Homo sapiens: one gene and its partner. The protein of the gene in region 1 purifies or fractionates together with the protein of each later gene. This does not show direct contact. Each region holds a gene or a part of one and is shown in the gene's direction. Other genes may lie near its edges. The genes, in order: FBXO15 and UBA7.

The links.
Region 2: the proteins of FBXO15 (region 1) and UBA7 purify together in Homo sapiens (affinity purification with western blotting, with the first as the bait; one study listed by BioGRID). This does not show direct contact.

The regions. Positions count from the first base shown.
Region 1 is NC_000018.10:74,074,615-74,078,424, reverse strand, and holds part of FBXO15 (F-box only protein 15), read left to right. Parts: intron 1-3,810. UniProt on the Homo sapiens protein: Substrate-recognition component of the SCF (SKP1-CUL1-F-box protein)-type E3 ubiquitin ligase complex.
Region 2 is NC_000003.12:49,807,522-49,810,953, reverse strand, and holds part of UBA7 (ubiquitin-like modifier-activating enzyme 7), read left to right. Parts: intron 1-121; coding exon 122-202; intron 203-281; coding exon 282-437; intron 438-525; coding exon 526-691; intron 692-770; coding exon 771-976; intron 977-1,074; coding exon 1,075-1,139; intron 1,140-1,228; coding exon 1,229-1,412; intron 1,413-1,489; coding exon 1,490-1,564; intron 1,565-1,794; coding exon 1,795-1,978; intron 1,979-2,485; coding exon 2,486-2,568; intron 2,569-2,841; coding exon 2,842-2,934; intron 2,935-3,026; coding exon 3,027-3,218; intron 3,219-3,432. UniProt on the Homo sapiens protein: E1-activating enzyme that catalyzes the covalent conjugation of the ubiquitin-like protein product of ISG15 to additional interferon stimulated proteins (ISGs) as well as other cellular proteins such as P53 in a process termed protein ISGylation.

The DNA.
Region 1 (3,810 bases):
CTGGCTGTCCTGCCTGGGGTGGGCTAGCACCCGGGGACAGGAGGGACAGTGACTGGGGGGCATTGGAAAGGCTGCTGGGGCAGGTCGGGGGGGGGCCTTGAAACCCTCAGGAAAGAATTTGGATTTTGGTGTATCTGTGGATGTTGTTAAAGAGTTTGATGTGCCTATCGTGTGCTAGGCCATGTTTTAGGTTAGGAGGGAATTGGAGAATGCTGGACTTTGAGAACTAGGAGGGCTTCAGAGGAGAGTCAGCTCCCAGCTCTTGATCTGGCAGCAGAGGAGGTGGGAGAGCAGAAAGACTGAGACACCCACCGACGGCTTAGGGCTGTGAGCAGCGTCCTCACCAAGGAGCCCTTGTGCCCCACCGGCCGCTCCTTCCTGACTTCTGCCAGGGTTTCTCCTCCTCAACCTTCTCGCAGGTGATGGGACCCAGGGCTCCACCTCCTTCCTCCCATAGGATCTAACCACCATCTCTATGCTGGTGGGTTTGGTGAGGTTGTAAGTAACACAGTCAAGTGACTGCTAGCCCAGTGGCTAAGGTCGTGCAGGGTGGTGGGGTGTGGAAGATGGATGCACCATGCAGTCCCACCTGCTGTGTTATCTCAGAGGTGCTTAGACCTCAGAGCCTTCTCTCTAAAACGGCCACAGTGGTAATGCCCATTCCAGGAGGGCTCCGGCTGCCTGCCAAAGACAGAGCCATCTGCTGGCCCTCAGTATTGGCTTCAACTCCCCCATTCTCAGCCTCAGTGAGGCTGCAGTGTAGGGTGTTTTTTCTTATTCCCCACCTGCTCCCCACTCTGGTGTCCTCCTCGCAGCCCAGGCTCTGTGTGTGGTGGTCCCTGTCATGCAGGAAGCAGTGGGTGCTGTGGAACAGGCTGTGTGGGGCTGGTCGCTGCTGTTCCAGGACCACTGCAGCCGATTGCCTGGGAAAGGCATCAGGGAGCAAGGTCAGGTGTCTGAGGGGTTCCTGGGTGGTCTCACTGTGTAGCTCATCTGATGTGAGGGGCCTTAGGCTCTGGCGTGCACTCTCCCATCAGGGATTAGTGTGTTTCATGCTGGCTGCTTCTTCACCCATCTCTTCTTTCCTGGTGTTTGCTGCCCCTGATGCATTAGGGCTCCTGCTGTCCTACCTTAGTGTTTAATAACAACCAGCACCTCCATCACTACTCTTACCACCTCCCTCTCATTTTATCACACTCATTCATTCATTCAGCACATAGTGGTTGAGCTTCAGTGACTGTGTGCATATGCAGGTGGCCAGGGGCACGATGCTGAACCAAGCTGGCCTAAGTCCTGCCCTCTTGGTGCTTAGCATCCATCTCTACCTGCACTGGCCGGGCCGAGTCAGTTTCAGCACTGCAGCTGTATCAAGTTCTGCATTCAACACACTGGTGTTTCTGCCCATTGGGTACATGGTCAGTTGAGATGAGAGTATCAGGGAAACTTCCTCAAGGGACTGGTATTCGAACTGAATGCTGAGATGGACAAAGAGAAGATGGGAAGAGGATCTCTCAGCAGGGGAGCTTGGGTGGCTCTTTGTCAGCTGGGGGCATGGTGTGTTCAAGGGTGAAGGGTCAGTGTGGCTGGAGCACAGATGGCAAGATGTGTGCAATGAGGTGGGATGGGCGGATGAGGCCAGGTCAGGCCTTAATGGTAGCCGGAAGGAATTTGGTTCTTTCTTGAGAGCCGTGGAAAGTTGTCTCAGGGTGATATGCTCAGACTCATGTTTTGTAAAGGTTTGTCTTCTGAATATGGCGAATGAGTGGGGAGATCAGTTAGATGGCTGCCTCCTTAAAGGAAGAGCAGTCACTTGGTTTCCTAGTCTGCTTGGCATGCTATCACATATCACCATCAGCTGGGTGGCTTTTAAGCAATAGAAACTTACTTCTTACAGTTCTGGAGGCTGGAAGCACCAAGGTCAAAGCACCAGCAGATGGGTGTCTGGTGAGGGCCCTCTTCCTAGTTCCTAGAGGCACCTTCTAGCAGTGTCCTCACCTGGTAAAAGGAGTGAGACAGCTCTGTGGGCCTCTTTTATAAGGACCTCAGTCCTATTCATGAGAGCTCTGCCCCCGTGACCTAATCACCTCCTAGAGGCCGCACTGCCTAAACAGTCACATTGGTGATCAGATTTTAAGACACGGATTTTGGGACGCACAAACATTCAGACCATAGCACTTGGACTAGGGCAGTGGCAATGGAGATGGACAAAATTAAAGCGATTCGAAAGAGAGGTAAGAACTAACGGGATTGGGTGATGGTTGGCTCGTCAGGGCTAGGAGGGAGGCCCCTAGAAGGACGCCCACATTTCAGGCATGCACAGCCAGATGACTGATGATGGTTCCACCAGTCCCTGGGACGAGGAGTACCAGGAGAGCTTTGCTGGGAGGGTCCTGAGTTTGGGCATAGTCCTGCTGGACTTGAGGGACCGTTGAAAGATCCAGAAGTTGAGTACGCACTTGAATATTTAGGTCTTGAACTTAGAAAAGAAGTTCGGCCTGGAGATAAACTTTTGGGAATCACAGGCATGTTGGTGATAACTTAGGATGTGAATGTAGATGAGTTCCATTTATGGGGAGAGATTACATAGAGTGAAAATAGGGCCTAGGACCAAGCTGTAGGAACCTCAGCAATGGGAGTGGGTAGAGAGCTGCAGGGCTTGTGGGTTCTGGATGCATTTGGAGAGGTAGAATTACTCTTCACTGTTCTCTTGAAAAACTAAACACTGCTGAGAAGCAGACTGACAGATGGTCACTGGATTTAGTGGCCTTATCAAGAGATGTTCGGTCAGATGATGGAAAAAGGATACCAGGCCAGAGTGGTTTGATGAGTGAATGGGTATTAATGGACAAATCCAGCGGAGACAGCTCTTTGGAGAGGGTTGTCTGGGAAGCGAGGAAAGAGCAGGGGCCTGCGGGGCCCAGGGAGGCTGTTTCCCTCTCTCTGCCTCTCTAAGATGGGAGTTACTTGAATGTGTTAAAGACTAAAAGCTGATGGGAGGACAGAAGTAGTCACTTGAGAGGGACATCATGCCTTTGCAAGATGGGCTACGCTGCAGCAGGAGGTTACTGGGCCACACCCGGGAGGAGCAGATGAGAAACACATGTGAGGAGAGGTGGGCGCAGAGGAGCTGGGCTGTGGATCTGCAGTGGGAAGTTGAGGAAAACATCCTTCTCCCCTGTCTGTGAAGGCCGAGGTTCTCTGCAGAGATCACCCTCCTAGCAGGATGCAGAGGGCTGAGGGAGGGGATGAGGTGTTGTTCCATGAGGCGGAGAGGGAGCCACCCAGAGAGCCAGGGTGGGACCGTCAGGCCGAGCTGAGGATGGTGCAGCTGCATGGGCACCCAGCAGCTCTGCGTGCAGCCCTCCCGCTGTGCTTGGTGCTCAGGTCCAGACAGATAGAAAATAACTGCGCTCCTCTGGGGCTGGGGTTTTGCTGGACCTGGCCCTAAGGTGTGTTGCAAGGGGAGTGAGGGAGGTATGTGCATTGGCAAGAGTGTTATTCCAGCAAAGGCCAGTGAAATCTAAAGTGGAAAGGAAGAGGCGGGAGAAGGAAGGGCTGGCTAGTGGGTGGGCTAGGTCCATGGGCAGTGCTCTTCAGGCCTTTTTACATATCCACTGCGGTATGGGCATATACAGACCACACATTCATGTGCAATGAAAGCAGCGTTCATGAAATGACGTTTATGCTTAGTGTATGTAATGCATGCCGACTATGTTCTTTTTCATTTTATTTTGACAAACAGTTGTGTCCTGCTAAATTTACTTCAGGATACATTAATAGGTCATGGCTTGCAGGGTGAAAACACTGGGT
Region 2 (3,432 bases), on another chromosome or scaffold:
GTCCAAAATCAGGACTAGGGGAGAAGCATGAGGAATGCCCTCCAGGTCCTGATTCAGAAAACTCAGTATAAGAAGGAGATGCAGGCCAGTAGCCATCACTGACCCCGTCTCTGTCCCCTAGAGAGGCAGCCGCTATGATGGGCAAATTGCAGTGTTTGGGGCTGGTTTTCAGGAGAAACTGAGACGCCAGCACTACCTCCTGGTGAGCTGTGGGGTGAGACTGGGGGTGCCTTTGGGAGAGCCAGCCCAGCCCCTCTGGCTAAGGCTGTTCCTGCCAACAGGTGGGCGCTGGTGCCATTGGTTGTGAGCTGCTCAAAGTCTTTGCCCTAGTGGGACTGGGGGCCGGGAACAGCGGGGGCTTGACTGTTGTTGACATGGACCACATAGAGCGCTCCAATCTCAGCCGTCAGTTCCTCTTCAGGTCCCAGGACGTTGGTGTGAGTGCTGACCCCTCTCCACACTCCTGCATCCCAGACCGTCCTCCCATACAGCTTCCCACCCAACATCTTCCTGCCTTCTTCCCAGAGACCCAAGGCAGAGGTGGCTGCAGCAGCTGCCCGGGGCCTGAACCCAGACTTACAGGTGATCCCGCTCACCTACCCACTGGATCCCACCACAGAGCACATCTATGGGGATAACTTTTTCTCCCGTGTGGATGGTGTGGCTGCTGCCCTGGACAGTTTCCAGGCCCGTGAGTGCTTGACTTCGGAGGTCAGTCCCTTGCCCACAGCTGTGCCAGTCCCACTTCTGACCCACTGCTCCCTTGCCAGGGCGCTATGTGGCTGCTCGTTGCACCCACTATCTGAAGCCACTGCTGGAGGCAGGCACATCGGGCACCTGGGGCAGTGCTACAGTATTCATGCCACATGTGACTGAGGCCTACAGAGCCCCTGCCTCAGCTGCAGCTTCTGAGGATGCCCCCTACCCTGTCTGTACCGTGCGGTACTTCCCTAGCACAGCCGAGCACACCCTGCAGGTAGGAAGCACCCTGGAGACTCCCACCCCACCCAGCTCAGCCCTCAGCTGCAGACCTGTTCTCCACCTGATACCTCATTCTTCCTCCCTCCTCCACAGTGGGCCCGGCATGAGTTTGAAGAACTCTTCCGACTGTCTGCAGAGACCATCAACCACCACCAACAGTAAGGCCACCAACAGAGGCAGATGGGAGTCCAGGGCTCCAAGCATGAGTCTGCAGGACTCAGTCTCACACTTCCTCCTCTCTCTGCAGGGCACACACTTCCCTGGCAGACATGGATGAGCCACAGACACTCACCTTACTGAAGCCAGTGCTTGGGGTCCTGAGAGTGCGTCCACAGAACTGGCAAGACTGTGTGGCGTGGGCTCTTGGCCACTGGAAACTCTGCTTTCATTATGGCATCAAACAGCTGCTGAGGCACTTCCCACCTAATAAAGTGTGTGGCTAGGGGTTGGGACGCTGGGGGCTCAGGGGGACCAGACTGAGCCCAGCAGCTTCTACTTACCTACCTAGGTGCTTGAGGATGGAACTCCCTTCTGGTCAGGTCCCAAACAGTGTCCCCAGCCCTTGGAGTTTGACACCAACCAAGTGAGTGGGATTCTGTAGGGAGCTCCAAGATAGAGATGTGGCCCCTCAGAGCAGAGGTAGGCATTTCTGCATTCTGCAGAGATGCACAGATGCCCAGAGAGAGCCATGCTTGTGCATATATGGGTGTCTACATGTGAGGCAAAGGCAGGCACTCAAACAGATCCACAAATGGACAGTGACCCCCACCCCATGCACCCATGCCTCTGTTCCTGCTCTTGGTCTGGCTGCAGGACACACACCTCCTCTACGTACTGGCAGCTGCCAACCTGTATGCCCAGATGCATGGGCTGCCTGGCTCACAGGACTGGACTGCACTCAGGGAGCTGCTGAAGCTGCTGCCACAGCCTGACCCCCAACAGATGGCCCCCATCTTTGCTAGTAATCTAGAGCTGGCTTCGGCTTCTGCTGAGTTTGGTGAGGCTCCTGGCCCTGGCCCCTCATGCTGTCTTTCAAAGGCCTGAACCTGTCCTGTCCTCAGCCTGTGCTGCAGAAGGAAGATAGGGCCTAGGGGATCTACAGCCAATTTGCTACCTCTCAGGCCTCCTAACCTCACTCCTCCATAGTTTCAGGCTTATCCTCTGGTCCCTCAGTAGGTCTTCTCCCTGCTGCCTACCCCACATCCCAGTTCTTGTGGCAGATTCTTGGCAAAATAAATAAGTAAATAAATAAAGTCCATTGGTTCCTGGGGAGTGTCTAGCTATGGCCTGCAGGTGAGGACAGGGTCACAGAGGTCATGAGCACACATGGGTGAAGACTGGGGCTTCTAGAGGGGAGATTGTAGCATTAATTAAGGGGGCTTCTTGATTTGATCAGGGAATAGTAAGTGACAGGCTTGGCAAAGACCAAGAATAGGCACAGGGCTCCAAGAAGAGTGCAGGAGACAGGGGCTAAGGACTGCCTCAACATCCCCTCCCCTGACAGGCCCTGAGCAGCAGAAGGAACTGAACAAAGCCCTGGAAGTCTGGAGTGTGGGCCCTCCCCTGAAGCCTCTGATGTTTGAGAAGGTGGGTGCCCAAGTGGCAGTGAGGAGTGGGGCTGGGGAGTTTGTGGAGAAAGGTCAGGAGCTAATAAGGTAGTTTTGGAGCCCCTTGGCCTGAATTCTCCCAGCAAGACCCTGGAAGCAGCTCACATTCCCTGAACCTCAGCCTGTCTGATCAAGAGGAGATGTGGGGCAACCCCCCGACAGAACTGTGTGGAGACTTGTGCAGTGACACGCAGTGGGCCACGGTGAGGGGCACAGCTGCAGTGTTAACACTACTTTGACTTGGGCCTTACAGGATGATGACAGCAACTTCCATGTGGACTTTGTGGTAGCGGCAGCTAGCCTGAGATGTCAGAACTACGGGATTCCACCGGTCAACCGTGCCCAGGTAACCCCACCCCTTGAGGCTTGGGCCTGGAGGTGGAGGGCAAACCCTGGCCCTACGCCTTGGGCCCAGACCAAATCTCTTGTCCTTGGCAGAGCAAGCGAATTGTGGGCCAGATTATCCCAGCCATTGCCACCACTACAGCAGCTGTGGCAGGCCTGTTGGGCCTGGAGCTGTATAAGGTGGTGAGTGGGCCACGGCCTCGTAGTGCCTTTCGCCACAGCTACCTACATCTGGCTGAAAACTACCTCATCCGCTATATGCCTTTTGCCCCAGCCATCCAGACGGTGAGCCCATGATACCCCACCCTTAGCCCTACTAGGCCTGGGTTTCCCCTGCACCTGCCCATACAGGCCCCAATCTAGCTGCCGGCTCTCACTGAAACTCAGACTGTGCAGAAGTCCTGAAGACTCCCTCCAGCCCTCTTCCTGCTATGAAGCCAGGCTGGGACCTGTCAGACACAGGAAGCAGCCGTCAGCCATCCCCACCCCCAATCCTCCA